2 separate regions of the Homo sapiens genome follow, and region 2 is linked to region 1. A link means that fine-mapping ties the variant in region 1 to the expression of a gene that starts in the linked region. Tissue or cell type: whole blood. Region 1 holds a variant in brackets; the other region holds the start of a gene. All regions are shown on one strand. Distances are from middle to middle.

Region 1 (8,328 bases):
GTGACAGAGCAAAACCCTGCCAAAAGAGCAAAGAAAGAAAGAACAAACCACTCTCACTCTCACTCTCACTCTGCCTCTCCCTCTCCCCACGGTCTCCCTCTCCCTCTCTTTCCACGGTCTCCCTCTGATGCCGAGCCGAAGCTGGACTGTACTGCCGCCATCTCTGCTCACTGCAACCTCCCTGCCTGATTCTCCTGCCTCAGCCTGCCGAGTGCCTGCAATTGCAGGCGCGCGCCGCCACGCCTGACTGGTTTTAGTATTTCTTTGGTGGAGACGGGGTTTCACTGTGTTGGCCGGGCTAGTCTCCAGCTCCTAACCGCGAGTGATCTGCCAGCCTCGGCCTCCCGAGGTGCCGGGATTGCAGATGGAGTCTCATTCACTCAGTGCTCAATGTTGCCCAGGCTGGAGTGCAGTGGCGTGATCTCAGCTCGCTACAACCTCCACTTCCCAGCTGCCTGCCTTGGCCCCCCAAAGTGCCGAGATTGCAGCCTCTGCCCGGCTGCCACCCCGTCTGGGAAGTGAGGAGCATCTCTGCCTGGCCACCCATCGTCTGGGATGTGAGGAGCCCCTCTGCCTGGCTGCCCAGTCTGGGAAGTGAGGAGCGCCTCTTCCCAGCCGCCATCCCGTCTAGGAAGTGAGGAGCGTCTCTGCCCGGCCGCCCATTGTCTGAGATGTGGGGAGCGCCTCTGCCCCGCCGCCCAGTCTGGGATGTGAGGAGCGCCTCTGCCCAGCCACGACCCCGTCTGGGAGGTGAGGAGCGTCTCTGCCCGGCAGCCGCCCCGTCTGAGAAGTGAGGAGCCCCTCCGCCCGGCAGCCGCCCCGTCTGGGAAGTGAGGAGCGTCTCCGCCCGGCCAGCCGCCCCGTCCGGGAGGGAGGTGGGGGGCAGCCACCGCCCGGCCAGCCGCCCCGTCCGGGAGGTGGGGGGCGCCTCCGCCCGGCCGCCGCCCCATCCGGGAGGTGGGGGGCGCCTCTGCCCGGCCGCCCCTTCTGGGAAGTGAGGAGCCCCTCTGCCCCGCCGCCACCCCTTCTGGGAGGTGTACCCAACAGCTCATTGAGAACGGGCCATGATGACAATGGTGGTTTTGTCGAATAGAAAAGGGGGAAATGTGGGGAAAAGAAAGAGAGATCAGGTTGTTACTGTGTCTGTGTAGAAAGAAGTAGACATGGGAGACTCCATTTTGTTCTGTACTAAGAAAAATTCTTCTGCCTTGGGATGCTGTTGATCTATGACCTTACCCCCAACCCGGTGCTCTCTGAAACATGTGCTGTGTCCACTCAGGGTTAAATGGATTAAGGGCGGTGCAAGATGTGCTTTGTTAAACAGATGCTTGAAGGCAGCATGCTCGTTAAGAGTCATCACCACTCCCTAATCTCAAGTACCCAGGGACACAAACACTGCGGAAGACCCCAGGGTCCTCTGCCTAGGAAAACCAGAGACCTTTGTTCACTTGTTTATCTGCTGACCTTCCCTCCACTATTGTCCTATGACCCTGCCAAATCCCCCTCTGCGAGAAACACCCAAGAATGATCAATTAAAAAAAGAAAAAAAAGAAAAAGAAAAAACACCCTAGAGAAAGAACATAGCACTAGTCCCAGCATGGTGACTCATGCCTGTAATCCCACACTTTGGGAGGCTGAGGCAGGAGGGTAACTTGAGCCCAGAAGTTCAAGACCAGCCTGGGCAACATAGCAAAACCCCATCTCTATAATTTTTTTTTAAAAAATTAGCTGGGCATAATGATGAATGTCTCTAATCCTGCCTAACTGGGAGGCTGAGCCCAGGAGTTGAAGGCTGCAGTGAGCCATGATCACACCCCTGTACTCTAGCCTGGGTAACAGAGTGAAATCTCGTCTCAAAAACAAAATGAAACACAAACCACATAGCACCTTTGGCTACAGAGGATTCTATCAGATACAATACCACCGAAATAAGCAGGCAATAAAAAATTATAAAACACAAAAGGATATCCTCTAGTATGAGAATTAATAGACACAATAGGATGGCTAAAACCAAGAATTTCAGATAAAACAAAATCTAAAAAAACAATATAAAAGTAAGCCTAGGACAATTTAAAAATAAAGAGAACTGTTTAAAACTAGAGAGAAAGACTTTGAAAAAAATATTTAAAGTTACTAAAGGTATGCCTAGAAACAAATCACTGAAATTTACAATTCAATCATTTTGTAACCACCAGGTCATCAGAAGTTAGAAAAAATGGCAATAACAAGTGTTGCTAAGGATATGGAGCAATGAGAACTCACTTCACACACTCCTGGCTAGGGGTGCGATTTGGAAAAACACGCATCACCTAGTAAGTTGAAGGTGCCCATAACCTCTTATCCCCGCACAATTCTGCTTTTGTGCATTTAGATAAATACCCTAGAGACTCTTGCCCTTGTGTAGTAAGAGCTGCACAAGAATTTTTATAAAAGTGTAATCATTCAGAACTGGCTTCAGCACTAAAGAAGAAAGGTATAATCAACAAGAAATTTTAAAGAATGTAGTATAGTCACACAATGCAATACTGTATAGCAAGGGAAAAGAATAAAGATACCAATTTGGATGCATCTCAGGAATAAAAAAAAAAAAAAAGAACAAACCAAAGAAAGAGAGAGAAAGAAAAAAGAGAGAAAAAGAAAACAGAAAGAAGGAAACAGTGAGAGAGAGAAAGAGGAGAAAAAGAAGGAAAGAATGAAAGGAAGGAAGGAAAAGAAGAAAGAGAAAGAGAGAAAGAAGGAAGGAAGGGCCGGGAGCGGTGGCTCACGCCTGTAATCCCAGCACTTTGGGAGGCTGAGGCAGGCAGATCACAAGGTCAGGAGATTGAGACCACAGTGAAACCCCGTCTCTACTAAAAATACAAAAAATTAGCCGGGTGTGGTGGCTGGCGCCTGTAGTCCCAGCTACTCGGAGAGGCTGAGGCAGGAGAATGGCGTGAACCCAGGAGGTGGAGGTTGCAGGAGCCAAGATCGCGCCCCTGCACTCCGGCCTGGGCGACAGAGCGAGACTCTGTCTCAAAAAAAAAAAAGAAAAAGAAAGAAAGAAAGAAAAGAGGAAGGAAGGAAGGAAGGAAAAGAAAAGAAAGAGAAGAGCCAGGCGCAGTGGCTCACGCCTGTAATCCCAGCACTTTGGGAGGCCGAGGCGTGCGGATCACGAGGTCAAGAGATAGAGGCCATCCTGGCCAACATGGTGAAATCCTGTCTGTCACTAAAAATACAAAAATTAGCTGGACATGGTCATGTGCGCCTGTAGTCCTAGCTACTCGGGAGGCTGAGGCAGGAGAATCGCTTGAACCCGGGAGGTGGAGGTTGCAGTGGGCCAAGATCACACCACTGCACTGCAGCCTGGTGACAGAGTGAGACTCCATCTCAAAAAAAAAAAAAAAAAAAAAAGGAAAGAAAGAAAGAGAAAGAAAATAAAGAAAGAAAAAGGGAAGGAGGGAGGGAGAAGGGGAAGTCCAAGACAGGTGTGAAAACCCGAGAAGGGGTCAGTTTCCAGGTGAGGGGTCAGCCTGGGTGCAGGGGAAGAGGCACCTGCCTAGTGGGCGTAAGGAATGGAGGGCTGGTACTTTCTTCTCCATGACCCCCTTGCTCAGAACGACCTATTTTCAGCATTTTGTGCAGACTGGCTTCCATCCATGCACCTTAGGCATTGTTCTCTGATGCTATCTGAGGCACTTGTCTGTCCTTTAAAATAGTCTCTGCATTTTTCAGATGACTGCTACCCCTGGTTTGGAGTTTGCTGTGATAGAACTAAAGTAAAATTTCTTAGTGACTCCACTGTTGCCGTGCCATCAAGCATCTGGGACTGGAAAAGCCGGGTTGCTCGGGTGGTTTGGATTCAGTGCCGCTGATCTTTTGTTTCCATGAGAACACAGAATGTGGCCAACCAGCAATCTGGTCTGACCTTGATGCCTAAATTCTAATGAAAGAGCAAGTTGAACTATAATGGTGAGAATGGAAACTAAGAACATTCTATCCAAAATGTTTGAGAAAGCCTTGTGACCAAAGGTGAGTGACTCAGAGTTTCTCTAAGACCCTGAAATGGGTGATAACGTCATGTCTAACCTTGGGAATTGGCTGAGTAAATCTCAGTACAGCTGCTCTATGGAAGGT[G/T]TGCAAACCTTGTAAGTGGTGGTTATAAAGATATGGAGCAAGTTGGAGAAATTATTTATAATAAATTATCTGGGGAAAAAAGTCAGGACTCAATATGGTGCAGGTGCGGTTGTTTCATTAAGGCAAGAAGATGCTAAGATTGCTTCTCAAACTGTCAGTGGTGATTGACCAGTTTGATTTTATAAAATTTCCAATCCATCCCAAATGTAAAGTTTTGTAAAATATCGTAAAAATAAATGATTAAATGTATATCCATCAAAGGACTTGTATCTAAAATACATAAAGAACTCTCAAAACTCAACAGAAAAAAAATCCAAATAGAACTAGAAGACACGAACAGACAGTCCACCAAAGAGGATATGTGGGTTGCAGAAAACACAGGAAAAGATGTTCAAAATCATTACCTATTAGGAAAATGAATGTCCATTTCCTGGTTTGGGTATTGTATTATTGTTATATAAGATGTCATCATTGGAAGAATCTGGGTAAACAGCTCATGGGATTTTACGTACTTTTTTCGTGATTTCCTGTGAGTCTATTATTATTTCAAAATAAAAAGTTATCAGGCCAGGCTTGGTGGCTCATGCCTGTAATCCCAGCTCTTTGGGAGGCTAAGACGGTGCAGGTGCAGATCACCTGAGGTCAGGAGTTCGAGAACAGACTAGCCAACATGGTGAAACCCCGTCTCTACTAAAAATACAAAAATTAGCTGGGCGTGGTGTTACACCCCTGTAATCCTAGCTACTCGGGAGGCTGAGGCAGGAGAATTGCTTGAACCGGGGAGGCAGAGGTTGCAGTGAGCAGAGATTGTGACACTGCACTCTAGCCTGGGTGACAGAGCGAGACTTGGTCTCAAAAAAAAATAATAAAATAAATAAATAATAAAAATGAAATGAAAAGCAGATACATGAAATACAAGCCCAACTTTTAAATCATAGATTCAACAGGCAGAAAACAACCATGTCCAATTGCTGTAAGAGTTTCTAAACATTTACTCTCATTTTCTGGGCCTGTTGTGCTGAAAAACAGTGGCGAATCTCTGGCAGACCAGCACCGGGCCGTGGACCACACTTTGAGTGGCTGTGGACCACCTGCTCAGACGAGAAGCAAATGCCAGAGATGGAATTATTTTTTTTTCCTTTTTGGCTTATTTTTTTGTTATGGAGTTATACTGCTGTTCAAAATAAAACTTGATTTAAAATATACAGAAATAATAATACAGAAGAAAATCTATTTTCCCCAAGTCTGGGTTTATGGATAAAACACACCGTCTACTCTGATGCTGCCTTCTCTTTCTCCCTCTCACCCTCCCCTAACTTCACCTCTTCCATTCCTCTCTCTCCTCCATGTGCTTGCCTTAACTGCCCTCTTTTCCTAGTGGCAGGTCCCTGGCTCTGGTCCCACCACTTTGTCACTATTCCAGACCCTCCCCGACCTATACTGGGGAAATCACTTACCTTTCTGAGCATCAGTCTCCTTATGCGGGGTGACAGTGAGACTCACCTTGGAGAGCTATCCTGTGAGGAGTGGGTGAGGTCACTCAAATGGGAGAAGCTCTGTGAACCACGTATAAGTGTGCACACGCAGAGTGGACTCTGTCTGCACACCTGGGTCCCCACATGCGCTGGCTGGCTCTGGTCAGCCTCCCAGTCTTCATTCCCATCTCACCCAACCCTCTCAGGCAAGCCAGGTGTCTCTGCTTCCAACCAAATGCCCTTCCCAGGAGGCCTCCCCAGCCCACATCCTGGCAACACTCAACCAGTGCCCCTGTCCCTCAGAGAGGGGTGTGTCCTCCCTTTCTACCTAGGAGCTCTCCCAGGCCAAGGCAGTCCTCCCCAGGGTAAAAGCCAAGTCAGGTTGCTGTATTTTTTTTCTTTGCTATAGCCTCAGGCTATGCAAACTTTTCCACCTGTTATATATAACAGGTGGAAGATATATAATAACAAATACAGTAAGTTCTCACTTAAGTTGCTGATAGACTCTTGGAAACTGCAACTTTAAGGGAAACAAAACCAATTTTACCATAGGCTAATTGATATAAATGAATAGAATTCCTGTGACATATTTCTGGTGACAAAAACATCACCAAACTTCTAAAGATCAAAACACTTCTAATATTAAACACTGAAATGAATGTAAGCTATACATACATTTAAGAAAAATTAAGAAAAACAAGATAATTAGGCCAGGTGCACTGGCTTACGCCTGTAATCCCAGCACTTTGCAAGGCCCAGGTGGGTGGATCACCTGAGGTCAGGAGTTCGAGACCGGCCTGGCCATCTTGGTGAAACCTCATCTCTACTAAAAATACAAAAGTTAGCTGACTGTGGTGGTGGGCACCTGTAATCCAGCTACTCAGGAGGCTGAGGCACAAGAATCACTTGAACCCAGGAGGTGGCGGTTGCAGTGAGCTGAGATTGTGCCACTGCACTCCAGCCTGGGTGACAGAGCGAGACACTCTCTCGAAAGAAAGAAAGAAAGAGAGAGAGAGAGAGAGAGAAAGAAAAAAGAAAGAAAGAGAAAGAAAGAAGAAAGAAAGAAAAACAAGATAATTATTTACCCAATTATTCCAGTTCAGGGTCGTGGGTGGCTGGAGCCCATCCTGGCAGCTCAGGATGCCAGGTGGGAACCTACCCTGGACAGGACATGGTGCTCACACACCCACACTCACTCGTGCTGGGACCATGCAGACTCACCAATGAGCCTAGCGTGCACAGCTTTGGGACATGGGAGAAAACCCACGCAGACGTGGGGAGAATGCAAACACCACGCAGACAGTGGCCCCTGCAGGAATCGAATTTTTCTCTTACCAATGTCATGACAAAAAGACATGGAATGAAATGACGTTATTCAAGGACCTGCTGTATGTGAATACTGGCTAACTCAATGAGCACTTACTATGTTCCAGGGATGATCACAGGCCCTACCCATGTACTAACTCATTTAATGCTCACAACCATCCTAGGAGGTAGGTTCTGTTCTAAGCCCCAGTGTACAGATGTGGAAACAGGCCAGTGAGCAGAGAAATCACCTGCCCCAGGCCACCCAGCCGGTAAGCCCCACACTCTCATCCACAACACTGCCTGTGGTTGCTGGTTGGTTTCCTGCTGTTGTTCACCCAGCTCAGCGCCTGGCACAATGAGAGGCTCTGTAAGCCTTTGTTGAGTGAATGAATGCTGCCCATTGTCCTGCATCTACGGAGCTGTTTTCCTTGCTATTGAAGGGGCATGACTGGAGGCAGAGGCCACAGAGATGACCACACCAGGGCAACCTGTAGTGCCAGTGCCTGGTTCCACCCGGGGGGCATCTGAGAACTGTGTCCTTCCATTCCTGAGTCCAGCACTTCCCAGGCCAGGTCAGCACTTTAATTCCTTGGGAAGTCTGTTTTTATTTTATTTTATTCATTTTAATGTTTTAAAAGTTTTTAGAAATAGAGAAAGGGTCTCACTTTGTTGCCTAGGCTGGTCTCAAAGTTCTGGGCTCAAGCAATCGCCCACCTCCACCTTCCAAAGTGCTGGGATTACAAGCCTGAGCCACCACGCCCAGCTCTGTGTTTCTTTCTTTTTTTTTTTCCTTCCTTCCTCCTTCCCTCCTTCCTCCCTCCCTCCTTCCCTCCTTCCTCCCTCCCTCCTTCCTCCCTCCTTTCCTTACTGTCTCCCTTTCTCTCTCGCTCTCTCTCTCTCCCCTTCCTTCCCTTCCTTCTCTCCCTTCCCACCCTCCCTTCCCTTTCTTTCTTTCCTTTTTTGTTTTTGTTTTTGTTTTTGAAACAGAGTCTCACTCTGTCACCCGGGCTGGAGTGCAGTGGCGCGATCTCGGCTCACTGCAACCTCCGCCTCCTGGGTTCAAGCGATTATTCTGCCTCAGCCTCCCAAGTAGCTGGGACTACAGGCGTGTGCCACTACGCCCAGCTAATTTTTGGATTTTTAGTAGAGACAGGGTTTCACCATGTTGGTTGGCCAGGATGGTCTCAATCTCTTGACCTCGTGATCCACCCCCAAAGTACTGGGATTACAGGTGTGAGCCACCGCACCCAGCCTTATTTTCTTTTTCTCTCTCTCCTCTCTTCTCTCTCTCTCTCTTCCTCTCTTTCTTTCTTCTCACTGGAGTCTTGCTCTGTCGCCCAGGCTGGAATGCAGTGGCGTGATCTCTGCAACCTCCGCCTCCCGGGTTCAAGTGATTCTCCTGCCTCAGCCTGCCAAGTAACTGGGCCTACAG
Region 2 (8,328 bases), 41 kb after region 1:
CATTCCCAGGCTTAGCAAACTGTTACCTCAAATTCCAGCTACTCCTCAAACATATCCTTAGCTGCGTTCTCACCTCAATCACCCTACATCCCTGTGACAAAACGACCCCCTCATTTCTGTAGGGCTATGATAGTTCTTGCTGTACAGATGCTTCTTATATCTGAAATATTTATTTATTTATTTTTTTTTTTGAGATGGAGTTTCACTCTTGTTGCCCAGGATGGAGTGCAATGGCGTGCTCTCAGCTCACCGCAACCTCCACCTCCTCCACCTCCCGGGTTCAAGTGATTCTCCTACCCCAGCCTCCCAAGTAGCTGGGAATACAAGCACCCGCCACCATACCCGGCAAATTTTTTGTATTTTTAGTAGAGACGGGGTTTCTCCATGTTGGTCAGGCTGGTCTCGAACTCCCGACCTCAGGTGATCCACCCGCCTCGGCCTCCCAAAGTGCTGGGATTACAGGCATGAGCCACTGCGCCCAGCCTGAAATATTTATTAAACCCGCGGGTGGGTGAAGGACCATCCATATCCATGTGAGGAGCAGGAAGTCTCTGTCGAGGGGTGAGAGCCCCTGCTGCCAGGGAGGAGGCAAGGTGTCAAGGAGACCAGCACCTAGGTGGGGAGTGAGAAGGCTCCTTCCTCCCTTGGCAAGGGGCCAGGATACCAGCCCTGTGCCCTCTAAGCAGGCCAGCTGGGCCCATGGACCAGAGCGATTCCTCTGACATGTGGGAGAGGATTTGGCCTGCAGCTGTGGGAGGCAGTAGAAGTGGCAAGTTAGAAAGCGCTACCTTGTAAACTGGATTAGGTATGCTTCCAGTGCTTTTTGGGATCAACCCTGTCCCCTTTTGCCTTTATCAAGCAAGTGCTTTTCAAAGTTCAGGCTATCTCCTATGGATCTGATTCTGAGATGCCTAACAGATTAATGATTGTAAATTTAAAAACTCCTCTATGATGGGGACTGTCTTTAAAAGAAAAAAATTTTGACCCAGTGGAGCAAAGGAGGAAAGGGGTGAGTCAGCTGACCCAGGCAGTGAGTACTTCCCTTCTAGACCTTTTCCCTTCTGGGTTAAAAGCTCCAAGGTTGTTCTGAATTAAGTTTTGTCTTGATCTGTGTTCTCTTAAATACAGGTGGTATTCCTTTATTCCTCCACTCCAAATCGCCACAACTGCTCTTTTGCTGTCCTTATCCAGTTTAGTCAACACTATTTGGGAGTCCCACTGACCCCAATTTCATACTTAAATTTGTAACGTTATCCCATATCCCCATGGCTCCCAAATCTGTTGAATCTATTTTCTTAACTTCTATTGGGTTATCATAGGCACACTGGCTGTATCTCACCCCCATTCCTCCTGCCTTCAAGTTTTAATTATTTGTTCCCAAGTCATTAAACCCAATTTCAACCTCAAATCTGTTAACCCAGTCCTAACTACGGCAAATGCTGTGGCCCTATATCAGATACCAGCAGGGACAGTCTGTCATCTTAAAATCTCCGACTCCCAAACCTGACAGCCACATGCACTAATCTAAGGCACTGCATTCTTACGCACCTAATCTAGACAATCCCCAAATCTGTCACTCCACTCCTGACACCCCCACTCCCAGTAATTTGCCTTTCTGCAAGTTATTACTCTGATTCCCAAACTATACCCATTGAAGATCTTACCCTAATATATGTTACACTCAACACCAGCTGGGTTCAAATCAGACAGGCACCTCTGGTCCTTCAACAGGGCTCATCCATCCTTACCTGCCCACCATCTAGTTCTTCTCACGCTTTGGTGTCCTTCATTCCCCCATTCCCTTCCCAAACCACCCTCATTTCAATGTTCTTTCAAACCAGATCTGCCATCATCCAAATGATGAAGCCACTTCTTCATTTCCCTCACACTGAGCCCTTGTGCTCCAGTATCCTTCACTCCACAGACTCTCCCACCTGTGCCCTAAAATCCTAGCCCTCACTCAGTCTCATTCCATCAGTTTCCAGAACCCTCACTTCTCAGGTCCAAAGCACCAATTTATCTCCCAAACTTCAAGTTCAACTGCTGTAAATACAATCTTAACCCTGTAAGACAGCCCTCATTCCCAAATCACAACCAAATGCCAGTCTGGTCTACACCTTCCGCCATCAACAATTTTCAAATCTGTCACAATTAGGGTCTAGTCAGGCACCTTGATGCCCCTGACTGAATCTCCTCATTCCTTGTCATATTCCTGGTCACACCCACAAATCTATTACCATTCCTCGGATCCCAGATTTCAATTACTCTCATTCTCAAGGCCTTCTCATTCCAGTTGTATTTTGCATTCTCTCGGTTCAATTATAAAGATGGTAAAATCTGACACCCACCTGCCTCAACTCAAATCTTGGATGGGTCTCCAATTCAATTTTTACCTTCCTCCCCCCAAGCTTCTTAACTGGAAAATTCTGGCCTAATGACCCCCATCAAAACTGTACCCATCCCAGCCACACCCACCTAATTCTCACACCTCCACACGCCCTTCATTCCAGCTCACTCCTCAAGCAGCACACTTCATCTGTACCGCATTGCTGGCCACCACCAAATCTGCCAAGTGCCTATGCATCCCTCTGTTCCAGAGACATCCCTACCTCGGTCTCAATTTCTGGTAGTCCCTACCTATCCTGCCACCTATGTCTCCACTGTCCCTTCTGCCCAATTTCAATACTCCCGTGCCCCTTCTCCTCATCTGCCCAGATACAAGCACTGTGATTCCTCTCTCTGACCCCAACTATGACTTCCATTTCCTCCTCCAAATGCGTCATCCCCCTTCCCCGCTTAAAGCCTCCTCCTAGCTCCCCTCTCTAGACAAATCGCTGCCACTCCCCTCCCCCAATGCTGGCCCTATCTGTTCCCCTCCCCCCATACGCGTCACCCTGTCCCCTCCTCCTACCAAATCCGTCGTCGCCATCAAATCCAGAGCCCCCATCTCCGGTAAACCGATAGCATTCCCCTGCAAAAGTCTTTGCCTTCGCACTCTCCCACCAAATTAAATCACAATGCAACCCAAGACCTCCGTCTCCTCTGTCCACCCCCAGTCTGGTGTCCTTCTTTCCCTCCTAAATTTCTGGCCCTGGCGCCCACTTTGTCCCCACCCCAAGACGTTTTAAATCCATCTCTATCAAATCCAGAGCCTCCGTTCCCCTCTACCCCAATTATGTGCTCCTCATTCTCTAAACACTTTGCCTGGGCCCCCAACCTTCCTCCCCATCTCTTCACCCAAACTTCTTGCCCCTCCCCCAATTCTATTGCTTCTTCCCTCGCCCCAAATTCGCTCCCTTCCCTATCCCAAGTCCATCGTCCCCACTCCTTTATCTCCCAAATATGTTTTTCCAGCCCATCGCTCCCTCCTTGGCACTCCCCCAAATCGCTTGTTCCTTCCACCCTCTCCCGTATCTGTTATTACTCTAACCCCTTGGTCTCCTTTCTGTATCCTAAAACCCGTGACCCCTGCGTTCCCAACTCCCTCACGGCTTCCCTCCCATCCCACCCACTCGGCCCCCCAAACCCGCCGTCCCCACCCCTCTCCCCAAATCCGTCGCCATTGACTGCCCGCCCCAATCCTCCAAATCCTGGCCTGTCACCTTCACATCAGCCTCCCATCTCCCTACGGCGCCTCTGGTCCCCCACCTGGATGAGCAGCTTCACGTAGAGCAGGGGATGGCTGAGCGCCGTCACGCCCGCGCCCAGTGCCACGAAAAGAGCCTCAGTGGTCGGGGCGTTGTCCCCAGACCCCAGGCCCCCTGACCCGCCATCCATCCTGCGGGCCGAGGGCTGAGCCGCAGGCCGAGGGTGGCGAGGATGTGCGCGGTGCGCGGGCGGTGGATCGCGAGCTCGAGCCTCGACCCCCGCCGCCGCTCCGCCGCGAGCTCCGGCTCCAGCTCCGGCTCCCGCCATCCCCGCGGCACCGCCGCGAGCCCAGGGCGCCACTTCCGGGTCCGAAGCTCCCATGGCGCCCGGCGGCGAGGTCACTCCCCGTCACGTGACGGGGCCACGCCCCCTCACCGGCGTCAGGGGGCGGGGCCGGGGCGCACCACTCCAGGCCGCGGGGGAGCTCGGGAGCGTGGTGCGGCGGGTGGGACACGCCGGATGTGGCTCCCCGGCCGGTTGGAGGCCTAGCAGGACACTGGGCTGCGGGCCGGGGGTCAATGGTGGCGGGCAGCCGGGGCCCCGGGCTCGGGAGCTGTGGCGGCAGCCGCAGGCCGGGGCGCTCCCCCGGGATGCCCAGAGCACGCGGGGGCGGGGTTCGGCGCCTCTGGCTGCCAGACGTCCCCAATATGGTCTGAGGCGCTTCCAAGCCACCTCCCTGGCTTCGGGAGTTTTCTCTGCAGTTCTCTGCCCGCCCCTTTGCGGCCCAGATCCCAGTCGCCGCGGCCTGCGTGGAACTCTGCGCGAGCTGAATCTCCTGCTGCAGGACGAGCCCCGACCCCGAGCCCGATCCCCTCCGCGGTCCCAGCCTCTTTGTCCGATCGCATTTTCCATCTCCTCTGCCAGGAATGCTCTCCCAACCAGAGCAAATCCAGATGTCCCCTCGGCGACTGTGGGCACCCTCCCCAGCTGTGGAGCCTTCGCACGCCTTCCTCAGAGTCCGTGGTTGTAAAATTTGTTTTGCTCTAAAGTATTTGACTGTCTCCCTCACTAGATCCTGAGGGTTTTAGTGAGTGCCTCAGTGTGAGCACATGCAGGCACTGCTAGGCGCCTGTAGTTGATTCTTAGTTAATACAAGTGAATAATCACAACTAGACCTTAAATTGCAGGGACTATGTGACAGGCACTTTTTAAAATGCTTTATACGTGTTGATTTAAGTGTAATCGTCACAAGAACCCTGCGAGGAAGATAGGACAGCAAGTGCCCTGTTCCTGTTTGTAAACGTGCCCGACACTCTGCAACAACACCTACAACAGAACCGTGCTAGTTTTGGGGGTTCGCAATAAAAGTTTCTGTTTGAACGGATCCTAGAGTGTGCAGGGACACAGCAATGGAAGACCTGGTCCCTTTGTCTGTACTTAGTCTATAGCCAGTTCATTGTGAGAAATTTCTTTAGATCGACACCTGCCACTGTTAGTCCGGGTTTCCCAGTCTGTCCTTTCTAACTCCCTTCCTGCCTTACCCCCTAAAAAGCTACCTCCCCTCTTCCCACTCCTGATAATGAACACTATGTACTTTCCACGTTCAAAGCATGCCACACTCCCTCTCTCCCTCACCTTGGCCTCCCTAACCCAGGCTTGTCCTAGTGAAATCACTTGCAAAGCCTGCTAACCCTTTCAACTTGCTGTGTTTTCTCCATCAAACACAATTTTCATCAAACATCCCCCAGGAGCACCTTAAATGACTTCCTTTTGCCTAGGTTCTGATTTAGCTTTCTCAATAAGGACCTCAAAGTCAAGTTCCTAGTGCCACACTAACTCTCTACCCAGAAGAGGCGATAGGTTTTAGTTTGGGGGTGGGGGGTGGGGGTAGGGGAGGATGATTTACTTCCCCATCCTTCTGAAACTTCCTCACAGGAACCTTTTCCTTCTTTGGGCTTTTCGTCCCCATTTTTCTCCAACTGTCTGTTTTTCTTTCTGAACTTGGCTGTTCACCGTTGAGCCTTTTACTCTGCCTTACATGGTCACCTAACTTTGGGCCTATACTGTATTTGGCCCTTTCAAACTGTAGTTTCATGTGAAGCAGCAACTTTGTGTTGTCTTGCATTGTTTTGTATCTTCCACAACATCAGATATAGGACTATGCACATAGTACATGTTCAGTAAAGTATTTCTAAATGATCGAACAATTTCTCCAAGTGAAGAAATTGAAGGAAAAATAGATCAGCTAAACCAGTTAGACCCGTAGGGTACCAAGCAGAAGCAAATGTTAAACTGCACAATAGCTGTATTTCTACAACTCAGGGCTCACAGAGACTCCAAGAGGAAGAAAAAAAGAATCCTCACAATAAAAAATGTATGAGCCGCTCAAAGAAACGTGCCATCATGAGAGAGAATGGGCAAAACAGGAAGAACTTGAGATAATAGAACCATCTCAAAGAAAATTAAAAGGAAAGAAGTAGGTTTCAAATGAAGGCAAAGATAAATAATAGGAAGTACTAGTAAAAAGAACAGGAATTGTAAAGGAAAAAAAAAAACAGGTGTATTTGAAAAGGTGCCAAACAGAACATCTAGAAATGAAAAGTATACTCACTGAAATGATTGAATGAAAGAAAATCTTCCTCAGCAGTCAAGCTACTGAGCAACCTGGCAATAAACCTTTAGAGCTATAAAGGAGTTAGCTCTGGCCAGGCGCGGTGGCTCACACCTGTAATCTCAGCACTTTGGGAGGCCGAGGCGGGTGGATCACCTGAGGTCGAGACCAGCCTGGCCAACATGGTGAAACCCCGTCTCTACTAAAAATACAAAAATTAGCTGGGCATGGTGGCGCATGCCTGCAGTCCCAGCTACTCGGGAGGCTGAGGCAGGAGAATCAGTTGAACCCAGGAGGCACAGGTTGCAGTGAGACGAGATCACGCCACTGCACTCCAGCCTGGACGATAAGAGTGAAACTCCATCTCAAAAAAAAAAAAAAAAGGCTGTAAGCTCTGGGCTTGGGTAGTGCCCCCCACTTCGGTGCCACCACCCTCTGCATATGCCACCTCACATATGCAGTGCTGACCACACTGCACTGTGACTGCCTGTTTTCTTGTCAGTCTCCCTTGTTAGACTGTAAGCTCTTTGACAGCCAGGACTGTTCTATTCATAGTTGAACCCCAAGCCTGGCTCAATGCCTGGCACATGATAGGAACACAACAAATATTACTAGAAAATGAATGACTGAGCAAAAACACTCTCCAAAATTGTACAGTTTTTTATGGTAGCACTAATTACAGAATCAAAACTTTAGGAAGATCCATGTGCCCGATAGGATCAAGCAAAAGGAAAAAAGTTAACAGGAAATAAGACTCGTAGATCTTGAGAACTGCCAAGAATACAGACCATCCCAGGTCCCTGGAATCCTGTGGGATATGTTGTAATGAAAAGTAAATGCAAATTAGTAAGTACCCACCATTGCAATTAATTTGACATCATACTGATCCAGTCAGGAGGGAACTAAGGTGATGTCAAGGGCGGCATCAGAGTTCTGGCCTCACCTGATGTTTTCTGCTGTTAACAGAATACTACAGACTGGGTAAGTTATAAAAAAAGAAACTTATTTCTCACAGTTCTGGAGGCAGAGAAGTCCAAAAACGTGGCATCAGCGTCTGGGGAGGGTCATCCCATGGCAGAAGGTGGAAGGCGGAGTGAGCACACTAGACAGAGAGATCAAACGGGGGCTGAACTTGTCCTTTTTTCTGAAGCCCATTCTTGAGATCACTAATCCACTCCTGAGATAGGAGCATTAATCTCCTCTTAAAGTTCCCATCGTTAATACCATTACATTGACAGTTAAATTTCAACTTGAGTTTTGGCAGGAACATTTAAACCATAGCTCCAGGGAAGGTGCACAAGGTGTAAGGAGAATCAACCTTGGTGTAAAGAAGATGGGCTCATTTCGATGTAGGATTCCTGTTTACTAGTTTTGGGTGAGAACTAGTTCCGGTTGCTGCCTCTGATCACCTGCTTGTCTGGGGTGAGGGCGAGGTGGGAGTGGAAACACTGGCTTTTCTTCTGTCTTGGATCCCTGGGGTCCCACCCTCAGACATCAACCCCACCCAGAAGCCAAGCTGCAAAAGGAGCCGACTTTAGGTCCTGGTTCCAATTCCACTTGCCTCTGCCTCTCCCCACCCTCTTAAAAAGAAAACAACAAGGCTGGGCGTGGTGGCTCACGCCTGTAATCCCAGCACTTTGGGAGGCCGAGGTGGCTGGATCACCTGAGGTCAGGAGTTTGAGACCAGCGCTGGACCAACATGGAGAAACCCCGTCTCTACTAAAAATACAAAATTAGCCGGGCATGGTGGCGCATGCCTGTAATCCCAGCTACTCGGAAGGCTGAGGCAGGAGGATCGCTTGAACCCGGGAGGCAGAGGTTGCGGTGAGCCAAGATCATGCCATTGCTCTCCAGCCTGGGCAACAAGAGCAAAACTCCATCTAAAAAGCAATAAATAAATAAATAAAAAGAAAACAATGACAACATAGGATTATACTGAACAATTATGTATGTATGTATGTATGTATTTATTTATGAAAGTCTTACTCTGTTGCCCAGCCTGGAGTGCAGTGGCAAGATCTCAGCTCACTGCAACCTCCACCTCCCAGTTCAAGCAATTCTTGTGCCTCAGCCTCCTGAGAGCTGGGATTACAAGTGGTTACCACCACACCTGGCTGATTTTTGTATTT

What was found.
Region 2: it holds the start of MTCH1, and the variant in region 1 is fine-mapped to the expression of MTCH1 in whole blood (INTERVAL, PIP 0.93).

The regions. Positions count from the first base shown.
Region 1 is chr6:36,940,937-36,949,264 of GRCh38, forward strand. It overlaps a transcript of PI16 not described here. Among named protein-coding and RNA genes, the nearest start is that of PI16, 9.6 kb to the right of the region's middle. The variant G/T (reference allele first, on the strand shown) is at 4,114.
Region 2 is chr6:36,982,205-36,990,532 of GRCh38, forward strand. It overlaps MTCH1 (mitochondrial carrier 1), which reads right to left and starts at 3,992. Exons shown (of 12, transcript NM_001271641.2): 1 at 3,649-3,992. The coding sequence starts at 3,969. RefSeq lists enhancers at 3,546-4,268, 4,387-4,596 and a silencer at 3,707-4,296.